Homo sapiens: one gene and its partners. The protein of the gene in region 1 purifies or fractionates together with the protein of each later gene. This does not show direct contact. Each region holds a gene or a part of one and is shown in the gene's direction. Other genes may lie near its edges.

Region 1 (5,231 bases):
AAGATTATATGTGTCAAAATGTTACAGTGATTACCTATGGTTAGTAGGATCATGGGTGGTTTTTTTCTTTTCTTTTTCTTTCTTTCTTTTTTTTTTTCCTTTTTGATACAGGGTCTCACTCTGTCATCCAGGCTGGAGTACAGTGGCACAATCGCAGGTCACTGCAGCCTCGACCTCCCTGGCTCAAGCAGTCCTTCCACTTCAGTCTCCCAAGTAGCTGGGACTATAGGCTTAAGCCACAATGCCCAGCTAATTTTTGTATTTTTTGTAGAGACAGGGTTTCACCATGTTGCCCAGGCTGGTCTCAAACTCCTGGGCACTCAAGCAATCCATCTGCCTCTAGGATTACAGGTGTGAGCCATTGTACCCCGCCTATTTTTTCTTTTAACCGCATGTTTTTGCTACTTTTTCTGCAATTAACATATATTTGAGACAGTCTTGCTCTGTCACCCAGGGTGGAGTACAGTGTTGCCATCTCAGCTCACTGCAACCTCTGCCTCCCAGATTCAAACAATTCTCCTGCCCTCAGCCTTCTGAGTAACTGGGATTACAGGCATATCCCACCATGTCCAGCTAATTTTGTATTTTTATTAGAAACAGGGTTTCACCATGTTGGCCAGGCTGGTCTCAAACTCCTGACCTCAAGTGATCCACCCGTCTCGGCCTCCCAAAGTGTTGGGTATAATACCCAACACCCAACCCGTGAGTCACCGCACCCGGCCACAAGTGTGTATATGTACCTATTTCCTTATTTTTAAAAATTCAGTTATTTGAATAGGCAACCAGTTCACATGGTAAAACAAGAAAGAGTATCAAGGGCTAAAGGGAGGAGGCTAAGGGAAATTTATGTGTACAGAGTTTCAGATTTGCAAGATGAAACAGTTTTGGAGATCTGTTTTATAACCGTGTAAATATACTTTACTACTGAACTGTACACTTAAAAATTGTGAAGATGACAAAATTTTTTTGTCATGTCTTTATTATCACAATAAAAAATCAGTAAAAGAGTGTGTAGTGAGAGGCTACCCGGACCACACCTATCCTTGAGCCACCCAGACTCCTCTCCAACACCCATTATTTTTTTTGAGATGGAGTCTCGCTCTGTCACCCAGGCTAGAGTGCAGTGGTGCGATCTCGGCTTACTGCAACCTCTGCCTCCCGGGTTCAAGCGATTCTCCTGCCTCAGCCTCCGAAGTAGCTGGGATTACAGGCACACACCACCACGCCCAGCTAATTTTTATATTTTTAATAGAAACAAGGTTTCACCATGTTAGGCTGGTCTCAAACTCCTGACCTCATGATCTGCCCACTTTGGCCTCCCAAAGTGCTGGGATTACAGGCGTGAGCCACCGTACCCGGCCCTAACACACTTGTTTTTACACAAATGGTCATATACTATGCATACTATTCTATACCTTGCTTTTTTTTTTTAACTTAATTTCTCTTAGAAACCTTATCAAGTATGTAGAGAGCCCCCTCATTCTTTTTTGCAGTTGCTAGCATTCCAGTGAATAGTTATATCATAATTTATATGACTATGTGTATATGACATACATGCTCAGTCGATCCTCATTATTTGTAGATTTTATATTTTCAAATTTGCCTACCTGGTAAAAGTTATTCATAACCTCAAATCAATACTAGTGGTGGTTTCACAGTCATTCACAGATGTGCAGTGTCTAAAAAAATTTGAGTTGTCCGACATGCACATGCTTAGCTGAGGTCAAACAGGGCAACATTGCTTTGTTTCAGCTTCCATACTATAAACAGGTGTTCTTTTCAAGGTCTATTTTAGTGCCATCTTTTTCACATTCTGTGCTTTTTTTTTTTTTTTTTTGCGCCCCTCTGGGGATTTTGCTGTTTAAAATGGCCCCTCCAAGGGTAGTGCTGTAGTGCCAACTAGTGTTTCTAAGTGCAAGAAGACTGTGACATGCGTTAGAGAGAAAATATGGTTAGATAAGCATCGTTTAGGCATGAGTTATAGGCTGTTGGCCACTAATTCAATGTTAATGAATCAACAATATGTTTTCAATAAGGTGTCTTTAAACCAAGATACATACAAGGTTATATACTGATCTGTTGACAAAAGTGTTGTCTATCAGAGGCTTTCAGGAACCTAACCCTGTATTTTTCAGAAGGAATGTTTCAATATTTGCTAATTCAATGTTTGCAGCAACTTTATAAAACGTAACTACCATGACTATTGAGAAGCCACTGTATGTGTGTATATATATCTGATTTATTATATATATACATTTAAATATTTGATCCCTTTGGAATATATCTTGGTATAAGACATGAGGTGTGAATCCAACATAATATTTTCCATGGTGGCTACCCAGTAGCTCAACCACCAACTTTTTTTTTTTTTTTTTTGAAATAGAGGTTTGCATGAGACTTTGTCTCAAAAAAAAAAAAATGAAATGGAGGTTTGCTCTTGTCGTCCAGGCTAGAGTGCAATGGCACAGTCTCGGTTCACTGCAACCTCCACCTCCTGGGTTCAAGTGATTCTCCTGCCTTAGCCTCCCAAGTAGCTGGGATTACAGATATGTGCTACCATGCCCAGCTAATTTTTGTGTTTTTGATAGAGACAGGGTTTCACCATGTTGTTGACCAGGCTAGTCTTGAATTCCTGACCTCAGGTGATCCACCCGCCTCGGCGTCCAAAGTGCTGGGATTACAGGCGTGAGCAACTGCGCCCAGCCTCAAATGCCAATTCTTGAATAATACATTTATCTTCTCCAATTTAAGATAGTATCTGTATCATAGACTAAATACCCATATATATTTGGCTTTTTTTTCTAGGTTTTCTATTTTGCTTCACTGATCATTCTAGTTTTATTTTGGAACCATACTGTTTTAATTATTTAGAGTTTATGATGTGTTTTAACATCTAATAGAATATTCATGGTGGGTGCGGTGGCTCACACCTGTAATCCTAGCACTTTGTGAGGCTGAGGCGGGCAGATCGCCTGAGGTCAGGAGTTTGAGACCAGGCTGGCCAACATGGCGAAACCCCGTTTCTACTAAAAATACAAAAATTCGCCAGGCGTGGTGGGGAGTGCCTATAATCCCAGCTACTCAGGAGGCTGAGGCAGGAGAAACGCTTGAACCCCGGAGGGCAGAGGCTGCAGTGAGCCGAGATCGCGCCATTTCACTCCAGCCTGAGCGAAAGAGTGAAACTCCATCTCAAAAAAAAAAAAAAAAAAGAATATTCACTGACTTAGCCAGGTGGCAGATTAAAACAGAAAATCCAGTCATTTGTTAGGTCATTTGAGCTGAGTGGCCTATTTCTCTTTGTTACCATATAGATTTTTTAAATCACGGAATTTCAGAATTAAAAAAGACCAAATATTTTTGGCCTTCATTTTATAGATGAAGAAACTGAAACTCATATTTCGGTAATTTACTCATGTTACCTATTTTGTAAGAGTCAGAATCAGGACTGGACTTCAGATCTGGTATTTCTTCTATCCCCTTAATTGTGTCTCTGTTAAAAGATGCCTTGACCATTTATGGGAAGAGTATATGCAGTTTACCTTTTCTGTTCCTTTTTGTAGAATGGTAGTCGAAGAAGAACACCAGGTGGAGTTTTTCTGAATCTCTTGAAAAACACTCCTAGTATCAGCGAGGAACAAATTAAGGTAATGATAATGTCCTCACCTCTTAAGCGCCATCATAATTTGACTTCTACTCACCCTCTACCTTCATTTTCTATGGATATGCATTACCTGTTCTGCCTTCAGTGGACTGATTTTGTTATTATCTTAAGTAACATTTATGCCTTTTATTTATTTATTTATTTTTGAGGCGGAGTCTCACTCTGTCACCCAGGCTGGAGTGTAGTGGCATGATCTCAGCTCACTGCAACCTCCGCCTCCCGGGTTCAAGTGATTCTCGTGCCTCAGCCTCCCAAGTAGCTGGGATTACAGGCACATGCCACCATGCCTGGCTGATTTTTGTATTTTTAGTAGAGACGGGGTTTCACCATATTGGCCAGACTGGTCTCAAACTCCTGACCTCAAGCAGTCCGCCCGTCTCGGCCCCCACAAAGTGCTGGGATTACAGGCGTGAGCCAGTGCTCCCAGCCAGCCTTTTATTCTTTGTAGAGACGGGGTCTTGCTGTGTTGCCCAGGCTGGTCTTGTACGTCTCGGCTCAAGCAATCCTCCTGCCCCAGTCTCCCAAAGTGCTGCAATTACAGGCATGAACCATTCTTTCTTTACCTATACACTTTTTATTTGTTTCTCTATTTCTTTCTTTCTTTTTTCCCCTTGAGACAGGGTCTAAGGACCTGGCTCTATTGCCCAGGCTGGAGTGCAGTGGCGCAATTTCTGTTCACTGCAGCCTCTGCCTCCTGGGCTCAAGTAGTCCTCCCACCTCAGCCTCCAGAGTAACTGGGAGTACAGGCATATGCCATTACACCCAGCTAATTTTTGTATTTTTTGTAGAGATGTTGCCCAGGCTGGTCTGGAACTCTGGGCTCTAGTGATCCACCCACCTCAGCCTCCCAGAGTGTTGGGATTATAGGCATGAGCCACCACGCCTGGCCTATACAGTCTTTTCCTGTTCCATGTGGAAATAAATAACAAGCATCAGATGCTTAGTTCTAATTATTTGAACAAGCGTAAGGGCAGGCAATGAGTCTGGAGTGAGTGTACAGTTAACACTTCAGCTTGGTGCCATCCCCCACCAAAAAAAAAATACAAAAAAAAAGTATCTCCCAGTAATGACAATACCCTACATAACCACAAGACCCATTATCACTCCTAAGAGAAATAAAAACAATTTCATAGTATTCAATATCTAGACCTTATTCCAATTTCCTAATTTGTCCCAAGAATATATTTTATATACTTTCCCCCTAAGCAGAATACAGTCTAGGTTTCCATATTCCATTTGTTGTATCTCCTCCTGTATTATATATTTTTAATTAAATTTTTTTTTTTAATTTTTGGAAACAAAGTCTTTTTTTAAAAACTGTTTTTTTTTTTTTTGAGATGGAGTCTTGCTCTGTCGCCAGGCTGGAGTGCAGTGTCATGATCTCGGCAACCTCTGCCTCCCGGGTTCAAGCAAGTCCCCTGCCTCAGCCTCCTGAGTAGCTGGGATTACAGGCTTGCGCCACCACGCCCAGCTAATTTTTTGTATTTTAGTAGAGATGGGGTTTCACCATGTTAACCAGGATGGTCTCGATCTCCTGACCTCGTGATCTGCCTGCCTTGGCCTCCCAAAG
Region 2 (3,500 bases), on another chromosome or scaffold:
TCAAATGCATATTTTTCTCATAAGGAAGAACAGTAGGGAGCTAAAGGACTTTAACTATTTGAGATGCTACATACAAGTTCCTATAAGTTTCTGTCATTTTTTTAACATGCATTTTAACCTTACAGGTAGCAATTTCAGGTGTTAGAGCAAGCTAATTTTTATACTTTGAACTATAAAAATACTGATTTTAAGGTTATGGGCAGAGATTTAGGCAATACTACTGAGCACTGTTACATTTGAAGGATAGCAAATTAGATTTTCAGAAATTATGTGTTATGTATTCTTGTCTAAGATGAAGATGGCTTTTAATTTTGTTTATGTATTTACATGGAGTGGTTCATCTTGCATTTTTGTGATTTTTTTTTTTGGTAGCAATACCTTTTATGCTATTTCAGTGTTGATATAACTTTAATGAAAAAATGTGACTGTAAAAAGCAACTTATTGTGAGTTACACAGCATTAAGTGGGAAAACAAAAGCTACCTACAGTCCTAGATTGGTACAGAATATCTTGATAAAAATTTATTTTTCTCATACATAGGACACTATGTTAAAAACATTCTAAACTTAAAACTACTGTTATGTCTGCTAGTGACTTGTCGTTAGGTGCTTTGGTTGGTTTTTCTCCAGTGGAGTGTTTTTTATAATGTTTTTTTTTCTTTATATTTTAGCCAAGAGTCGAAGCTAAACCAGAAGTTCAATCTCAGCCACCTCGTGTGCGTGAACAACGACCTAGAGAACGACCTGGTTTTCCTCCTAGAGGACCAAGACCAGGTGAGTCAGCTCCTTTATAGCCTTTAGCATTTAACATTTGTAAGGCTGTAAAAGACTGAACTTAAACAAAAAACTATGATGCGTTCTATACACAGACCCATATAGTCTCAAATTGCTTAAAGATGTGATGTGAGCAACCTGCTAAATAGTGTCTGGGGCCAAATAACCAATTTTTAGGGAGGATTGGTTGACATGCCATGGTGACATATTTTGAAGGTGTAAAAGACTTAAGTCTTATTTGGTTATTGTCACGGTTTTTTGTTTTTTTTTTTTGTTTGTTTGTTTTTTTTTTGAGACGGAGTCTTGCTCTGTCGCCAGGCTGGAGTACAATGGCGTGATCTCAGCTCACTGCAACCTCTGTCTCCCGGGTTCAAATGATTCCCTTGCCTCAGCCTCCCAAGTAGCTGGGATTACAGGCACACGCCACCAGGCCCAGCTAATTTTCTGTATTTTAGTAGAGACAGGGTTTCACCATGTTGGCCAAGATGGTCTCGATCTGCTGACCTCATGATCTGCCCTACTCGTCCTCCCAAAGTGCTGGGATTACAGGCATGAGCCACTGTGCCCGGCCTAGTCACTGGTTTTAAGAGTTCAAAACCAAGCTGCCAATAACCTACTCTCTTAGCAGTCTTATCTCTTTACAGATAAACAATAAGCCCATTTTGATTCTTAGGTATTAAGTAAGTTGCCATGATTTTTGACTTGTTTACCTTGTTAGCTACACATGTAATACTTTTATTTGAACTCTGTAAGAATGTTTAGATTGCTTTGGGGAGGAGATGGGAGAGATGGAGATAGTATATATCACATTTACAATGTGAATTTTTAAAGTGATATGTTACCAAACTAGAAGTCCTAAATTTGTCAGTGATTAAACTTGGGATCTTGAGTGAAACCCTTAAATTCTGAGCTTCTTTTATGTCAAATATTACACAAATTATTCTTGTATTGCCTATTTTCCTCACTGTGTTCCTTGTGTTATTGGGAGAATCAAATAAGATTTTATGTATATCTATATACATACACACTTAATATGTATAGACTGCATAAATGTGATGATTGCTGTTAAAATTTACTGATTGCTGTAATGTCATAAAGCCAAAGAATTTTGAATTTCAAAAAACTAAGCAAATATTTAGTAAGCTATACCTCACTATCTGAAATCTGCTTGGTTCCTGGGTGATGGCAACAGTTTGGTTAAGGAGGAATACCTGTAGTACTAATATTTGATTTTTGTATAATCCAGTAGATCTAGAAGAAGCTATTTTAGCAACCTAGTCATTGTCCTCACTTTACATTTTAGTGTCATGCTGTTTTCTAACCTACTAGTAATAAGTACTTTTGCCTCTTTTTCAAGAAGCTCACCTAGTCTTATTAAACTAAAACAGGAATATCAATATTAAGTGATTTTTACATTCACTCCTTTGAAGTAGTTTTTATGATATTGTAAACTTTAGTATCTGCTCTATTTCTATTCTCAGGCAGAGGAGATATGGAACAGAATGACTCTGACAACCGTAGAATAATTCGCTATCCAGATAGTCATCAACTTTTTGTTGGTAACTTGCCACATGATATTGATGAAAATGAGCTAAAGGAATTCTTCATGAGTAAGTGATTTATTTTGCTGTTGGAGTTTTTAAATTATTTTAAATTAAGCAAGAGGCATATGGAGCTTTTTTAATAACTATTTTTTTTAAATGTTTCTCTCTTTATACTGTGTCCAGCTACCAGACCCACCTTAATTGTGCAGAAGGGAGTAGATGACTTATCTCACATGTTTCTCAGTGACTGCTTAGTGTTGATTTGGCCTGGCTCAGTAGTGTTTAGAAGAAACAGCTGGATAAATCAGTCATAAATTCAGAGATAAAGGATTCATTTGGCAAATGGGTCAATATATTAGGAGAAAATACATTGTCTTTCCAAAATTATGCAGTTAACTTTACTTATGAAAGGACTACCAAAGATGCAGAAAGGTAACACAGCAGGCGGGCAGGCTACTTGGTATCTTAGGGGATTGCCTGCTTGAGTAAACGTACCTTGGCTATCACTGTGTGTAGAAGCTTGCGAGTTTTATTTTAAAATGGATCGGGGAGATAACGATATTCATCCTGAACAATTAGAGCCATCAAGGTATTCTGTTAAAAATATTTAACCCTTGATGTAATGTATATTTTCACAGGTTTTGGAAACGTTGTGGAACTTCGCATCAATACCAAGGGTGTTGGGGGAAAGCTTCCAAATTTTGGTTTTGTGGTTTTTGATGACTCTGAACCAGTTCAGAGAATCTTAATTGCAAAAGTAAGTGATTTAAAGGGCATAATTCAAGACTTTATTATTTCTGTTGTATATATTAATTTGGGGTATTTAAAAACCATAGAAAATCTTTTAATAATAAAGCTAAAAATAGTTATTAAATGGTATTTATGCAAAGAATAAAGATTTGTTAGTTTGCAGATCATTTTAAATTTTGTTACTTGCTTTGCTGAAGAAGGTGGGAAAGATTGCAAGATTGCATGTTAAGAATTTTGGCTGGGTATAGTGGCTCACACTTGTAATCCCAGCACTTTGGGAAGTTAAGGCAGAAGGATTGCTTGAGCCCAGGAGAGTTCAAGACCAGCCTGGGCAACAGTGAGACATTGTCTCTACAAAAAAAGAAAAATAGCCGGCCATGGTGGTAGACACCTATAATCCCAGCTACTCAGGAGGCTGAGGTGGGAGTATCAC
Region 3 (3,500 bases), on another chromosome or scaffold:
TACGTATTTGTTTAGATCAGGGTCTGAAAAATCCCCTGATTTCTAATTTTCACTTGAAAAATAATCAAAAAGTTTTCCTATACTTATAAAAATGTGTCTCCTCCAAAACACTGGAAAAAATACCAAACTATGAAAACCACTTCACAGCCACCACCCAAGGTAACCACCATAAACACTGTAGTAAATCCCTTCCACACGTCATGATTCACTGTTACATAAAGAATGTAGGTTCATCGCAGGAAAATTAGAAAATTCAGATAGAAAAATCATCCTTTCTCATCCACAGAATCATTTTTTGATATTTCATTATATGTCATCCCAAACTTTTACACTGCTTATACATAGACTATTTTATGTCAATAGAAAGATGTGAATTCCACAGGCACATCTTTGGTGGGTAGGGGGTGGGGGGATTGGGAGGGTCCTTGGCCTTGTCAGCCAAGGCCAGACTCATCCATTTGCCCAGAAAGCCAGATCCTAGTTGTATGGGGGTGGGATCCTAGGGGTTTAGAAGACATTATGGGTGTGAGATACAGGTGTGGTGGCTTTTGTGTTGGGGTGCGCGGGCTCTCCTGGGGTTACTGTGTAGGGTACTCGCCTGTCCTCTGGCTGAGAGACCCCTCTTGATCTGGCCATTCATGCCTGTCCCCCTCCCTCCTGTATCTTAGGCCAGCGTCTAGTTAGCCCTGGCTCAGCCAACGAGACCTCATCCATCCTGGTGGAGTCAGTGACCAGGTCGTCTACAGAGACCTGCTATAGCGCCATTCCCAAGGCATCCTCGGACGCCAGCAAGGTGACCTCTAAGGGGGCAGGGCTCTCAAAGGCCTTTGTGGGCCAGAAGAGTTCCTTCCTGGTGGACTGCAGCAAAGCTGGTAGGTGTCTGGGCCTTTTCAAGGGTGGGGTGGGGCAGGGGCAGGCTGGGCACCCTGGGTACACTGGCCTTCCCTGCTGAGGTCTCCTGCAGTGCCCACCCCCATGTAGGCCAGCCGTTTGCAAGTAACCATCGTCATGACCCTGTTCTCCTGCACTTAATATTTTTAAATGATTTCCTTCTCTTTTGCCTTTTGAACTTGGGTATTTATTTGGGTTTCAAGGGTCGGTTGCCTGGGTTCTGGCATCCAGTACACCTGGGCTGGAAACCTAGTACCGCCACTTCATTCATTCATTCGTTTGTTCTAAAACTTATTTAGCCATGTGACCTTGGAAAGTTATTAAATCTCTTTCCAAAAGTCAGTTTCCTCTTCTCGGAAGTACCTTCCTTAAGGTGCTTGTGAGAGTAAACAAGAAGATTCTCATAGCCAACACTTAGAATAGCCCTTACTGTGTGCTAGGTTTTGACACCCATAACTCTTAAACCTCACAACTAGTTCGTGAGGTATGTGCTGTTCTCATTCCCTGTTTACAGATGGGGAAGCTGAGCTAGGGAGAGGTGAGATTCCAGTCCAAGGTCACCCAGGTAGCAAGTGGCAGGGCAGGGATTCGAACCCACACCGTCAGGCTCTATGAGCCTCTGCTTGTAATTGCCACGCTCTCCCACCTCTTAGGGGCCCCAGCATTATCGTGGAAGCACCTTACCTTTGGCTCTCATATTTCCTCTTCTTCCTGTGCCTGTCCTGATGCATCCGGGTGGAGTAACCACCTTTTGCCTCCTAGGCTCCAACATGCTGCTGATCGGGGTCCATGGGCCCACCACCCCCTGCGAGGAGGTCTCCATGAAGCATGTAGGCAACCAGCAATACAACGTCACATACGTCGTCAAGGAGAGGGGCGATTATGTGCTGGCTGTGAAGTGGGGGGAGGAACACATCCCTGGCAGCCCTTTTCATGTCACAGTGCCTTAAAACAGTTTTCTCAAATCCTGGAGAGAGTTCTTGTGGTTGCTTTTGTTGCTTGTTTGTAATTCATTTTATACAAAGCCCTCCAGCCTGTTTGTGGGGCTGAAACCCCATCCCTAAAATATTGCTGTTGTAAAATGCCTTCAGAAATAAGTCCTAGACTGGACTCTTGAGGGACATATTGGAGAATCTTAAGAAATGCAAGCTTGTTCAGGGGGCTGAGAAGATCCTGAGTACACTAGGTGCAAACCAGAACTCTTGGTGGAACAGACCAGCCACTGCAGCAGACAGACCAGGAACACAATGAGACTGACATTTCAAAAAAACAAAACTGGCTAGCCTGAGCTGCTGGTTCACTCTTCAGCATTTATGAAACAAGGCTAGGGGAAGATGGGCAGAGAAAAAGGGGACACCTAGTTTGGTTGTCATTTGGCAAAGGAGATGACTTAAAATCCGCTTAATCTCTTCCAGTGTCCGTGTTAATGTATTTGGCTATTAGATCACTAGCACTGCTTTACCGCTCCTCATCGCCAACACCCCCATGCTCTGTGGCCTTCTTACACTTCTCAGAGGGCAGAGTGGCAGCCGGGCACCCTACAGAAACTCAGAGGGCAGAGTGGCAGCCAGGCCCACATGTCTCTCAAGTACCTGTCCCCTCGCTCTGGTGATTATTTCTTGCAGAATCACCACACGAGACCATCCCGGCAGTCATGGTTTTGCTTTAGTTTTCCAAGTCCGTTTCAGTCCCTTCCTTGGTCTGAAGAAATTCTGCAGTGGCGAGCAGTTTCCCACTTGCCAAAGATCCCTTTTAACCAACACTAGCCCTTGTTTTTAACACACGCTCCAGCCCTTCATCAGCCTGGGCAGTCTTACCAAAATGTTTAAAGTGATCTCAGAGGGGCCCATGGATTAACGCCCTCATCCCAAGGTCCGTCCCATGACATAACACTCCACACCCGCCCCAGCCAACTTCATGGGTCACTTTTTCTGGAAAATAATGATCTGTACAGACAGGACAGAATGAAACTCCTGCGGGTCTTTGGCCTGAAAGTTGGGAATGGTTGGGGGAGAGAAGGGCAGCAGCTTATTGGTGGTCTTTTCACCATTGGCAGAAACAGTGAGAGCTGTGTGGTGCAGAAATCCAGAAATGAGGTGTAGGGAATTTTGCCTGCCTTCCTGCAGACCTGAGCTGGCTTTGGAATGAGGTTAAAGTGTCAGGGACGTTGCCTGAGCCCAAATGTGTAGTGTGGTCTGGGCAGGCAGACCTTTAGGTTTTGCTGCTTAGTCCTGAGGAAGTGGCCACTCTTGTGGCAGGTGTAGTATCTGGGGCGAGTGTTGGGGGTAAAAGCCCACCCTACAGAAAGTGGAACAGCCCGGAGCCTGATGTGAAAGGACCACGGGTGTTGTAAGCTGGGACACGGAAGCCAAACTGGAATCAAACGCCGACTGTAAATTGTATCTTATAACTTATTAAATAAAACATTTGCTCCGTAAAGTTGCCTTGGTGTTCTTGGATGATGTCGCTTCTGAATAAATTGTTTAATCCTAGGAGTTCAACACCCTCAGCCTGGGTAACAGCAAGACCCAGCCTCTACAAAAAATTAAAAAATTAGCCAGCATGGTGATGCATGCCTGCAGTCCCAGCTACTCAGGAGGCGGAGGCAG
Region 4 (2,545 bases), on another chromosome or scaffold:
TGGTGTCTATTCTTACCAGATGTATAAAAATGTGAGAGGCCTTGGAGAATCATATCCCAAGAATCAGCAGTTTCTTTTACTGGACCTTTAAGATTGAGACTTGTAAGGTCCTGATGCAGTGACTTGTAAGGTCACTTTGTCTCTCTTGTGAATGTTACTGTTTTTTCTCTTCTGAGGTTATGACCAAAGAATCCTCAAGGCGAGTGATCCTTCAGGTTTGAGACAGCCACATGCAGGAAGACAGGACTTGTAGAGTGTTGGGGCCAAGTGTGTGGTTAGAATCCTTGGGGTGGGGAAAGAGTTTGTTCTAGACTCCAGTGTAGTCCTTGTGGCTACCAGGTCTGACGTGCCAAGGACACGGGAAAGCTGGGAGTGAGGATACTCATAGTCATAGCACCTTACACCAGAATAAAAGTTTTTTTTTTCTTTTTAAGTGATGAGAGAATGGCTAGTCTGATTTTGCCAACATGGGCTGCTATTTGCTTAAGACCTTGATGGTATAAGGAGTGAAGATGCAATCAGGGTAAAAGGCGGTCTGGAGTTGTGGTGTGCTGGCAAACCAGCCCTCTGGGGCAAAAAATTAAAAAGCCTTGATATGGAGTGTTTGCTGATACCTATGATGTAAATATTCCCGCCATGGCCACTTTCCAGCTACCAGCAAGGCATCCTGGCACCAGGGATTGGGAGGAGATGGCATAGTCCTAAGAGTCAGCCTTGGGCATTGGGCCATGTGGGACTGGGCAGTGGGGTATCTGGTCTGGTTCTAAGTGCTGTGATGAAGCAGTAGCAGCTGTAATAGCTGGCATTTCCCGTGTGCTCATCACATAGCAGATGTTATTCCAAGGACTGTATGTTCTTTATCATCCCTCATTTGATAGACAAGACAACTGAGACACAAAAGGGTGAAATAAACAGTAAGTACTCCATCCCAGGCCATCTCATCCAGAGGGTGCTGTCTTGACCACTCTACTACTCTGGTTGATGGGAGGCAGTAAATTGTCCATCAGTATACTTCTTCATCAAAGCTACATAGTCAAAAAGCCACAGGAGGCTGTGAGGAGAAGCTCACTGCTGCTCTGTTGAAGTCTGTATTGGTTTCCTATGGCCACTCTTAACAAATTACCACAACCTCAGTGGCTTAAAACAACACAAATATATCATTCTGTCATCCTGGACACGAGCCAAAGGTTGTCGGCAGAAGCGAATTGCTTCCAGAGGTGCTATAGGGTGCTGCCCATTCCTTGCCCCTTTTCCGCTTCTAGAGGCTGCCCATTTTCCTTGGCTTGTGGCTGCATCATTCTGGCTGCTTCTATTGTCACACCTCCTCTCTGACCCTCCCTGCCTCCTTGTAAGGACACTTGGGATTACGCCCATCCAGATAATCTAGAATAATCTCCCATTTTGTGATTCTTAATAACATCTGCAAAGCCTCTTTTACCTTGCAGAATAAGATATTCACAGGTTCTGGTGAGGAGGACAGGGACATCTCTGAAGGGGAGGGAAGCAGGAGATAGGGTCTGGAGGCATGGAATTGGCTTCCTAAGGCCAATTCAGGCTGACTTCCTAGAACTAAGTCAAAAGGAAAACCCCAACTTTCCACGCTCAAGTAACAAAAGGACCAGAGGCTACTCCCTTTGCAACCTCCCCACCCCCAGCCCCTTTTCTGCATGGCAGGTGAAAAATTGAAAGTATCGCTAATTGATCCCCTCCCACAACCAATCAGACTGGTCTTAGGCCAAGTCTTCATTTGCCTAGGAGTATAACTTTGTAACTTCAGCCTCTGATTGGGCGTTTTACACAACCAGTCAGATGTTTGTATAGGGTGGTGTAACTTTGTAACTTTGCTTCAGCCTCTGATTGGTCCCCTCCCACAACCAATCAAACTGATCATGGACCTCTGCTTCATTTACATAGGGTGTACACCAAGTAACCAATGGGAAACCTCTAGAGGGTATTTAAATCCCAGAAAATTCTGTAACCGGGTTCTTGAGCTGCTTGGGCTGCTCCCACCCTGTGGAGCGTACTTTCGTTTTTCAATAAATCTCTTTTGTTGCTTCATTCTTTACTTGCTTTGTGCGTTTTGTCCATTTCTTTATCAAGACGCCAAGAACCTGGACACCCTCCACCGGTAACAGGAGGAGCATTAGTCAGCCTACCACAGACTCCAACGAACGTTTTTTGAGAGGAAATGAAAGAATATTCCTAAGTTATTGGGTGCCTTTTCTTCAGGAATCCCTGAAAGTGGGGGTTTGCAATTTTCCCTGGATTGAAAACAGAAATGCTTCCTACACAAACATGATTGAGACCTTGTACTCTAGGTGTAAAAAAACAGAGTAGGTCATACTCTGTGGGTTATGGTCAGAGAGATCTGGTTAGAAGTTCCCAGGTAGGCGACAGCCCTAGATGTGTGACACTTCTAGGAGAATCTCTGGCTATGTGGATACGTCCAGGTGTGTAAGGCAGCCTCAGGGACTGCCACCACTTGGTCACATACATGTCCCTCCAACTAATCCTAGCTCTCAAGGACAGGTGGTTCTGGGCCCTG

Evidence for each region. Proteins that work in one complex are often made in the same cells at the same time.
Region 2: the proteins of PHAX (region 1) and G3BP2 fractionate together in Homo sapiens (co-fractionation; one large-scale study listed by BioGRID). This does not show direct contact.
Region 3: the proteins of PHAX (region 1) and FLNB purify together in Homo sapiens (affinity purification with mass spectrometry; one large-scale study listed by BioGRID and IntAct). This does not show direct contact.
Region 4: the proteins of PHAX (region 1) and LIMD1 purify together in Homo sapiens (affinity purification with mass spectrometry; one large-scale study listed by BioGRID and IntAct). This does not show direct contact.

The regions. Positions count from the first base shown.
Region 1 is NC_000005.10:126,613,690-126,618,920, forward strand, and holds part of PHAX (phosphorylated adapter RNA export protein), read left to right. Parts: intron 1-3,560; coding exon 3,561-3,644; intron 3,645-5,231. UniProt on the Homo sapiens protein: A phosphoprotein adapter involved in the XPO1-mediated U snRNA export from the nucleus.
Region 2 is NC_000004.12:75,645,912-75,649,411, reverse strand, and holds part of G3BP2 (ras GTPase-activating protein-binding protein 2), read left to right. Parts: intron 1-670; coding exon 671-773; intron 774-2,254; coding exon 2,255-2,383; intron 2,384-2,955; coding exon 2,956-3,074; intron 3,075-3,500.
Region 3 is NC_000003.12:58,168,922-58,172,421, forward strand, and holds the end of FLNB (filamin-B), read left to right. Parts: intron 1-668; coding exon 669-872; intron 873-1,575; exon of another isoform or gene 1,576-1,653; coding exon 1,654-1,841; 3' UTR 1,842-2,855; coding exon of another isoform or gene 2,856-2,952; 3' UTR 2,953-3,149; coding exon of another isoform or gene 3,150-3,240; 3' UTR 3,241-3,330; downstream 3,331-3,500. Other genes in the region: uncharacterized protein LOC124909485, read left to right, coding at 2,856-2,952, 3,150-3,240. UniProt on the Homo sapiens protein: Connects cell membrane constituents to the actin cytoskeleton. May promote orthogonal branching of actin filaments and links actin filaments to membrane glycoproteins. Anchors various transmembrane proteins to the actin cytoskeleton.
Region 4 is NC_000003.12:45,681,751-45,684,295, forward strand, and holds part of LIMD1 (LIM domain-containing protein 1), read left to right. Parts: 3' UTR 1-2,545. UniProt on the Homo sapiens protein: Adapter or scaffold protein which participates in the assembly of numerous protein complexes and is involved in several cellular processes such as cell fate determination, cytoskeletal organization, repression of gene transcription, cell-cell adhesion, cell differentiation, proliferation and migration.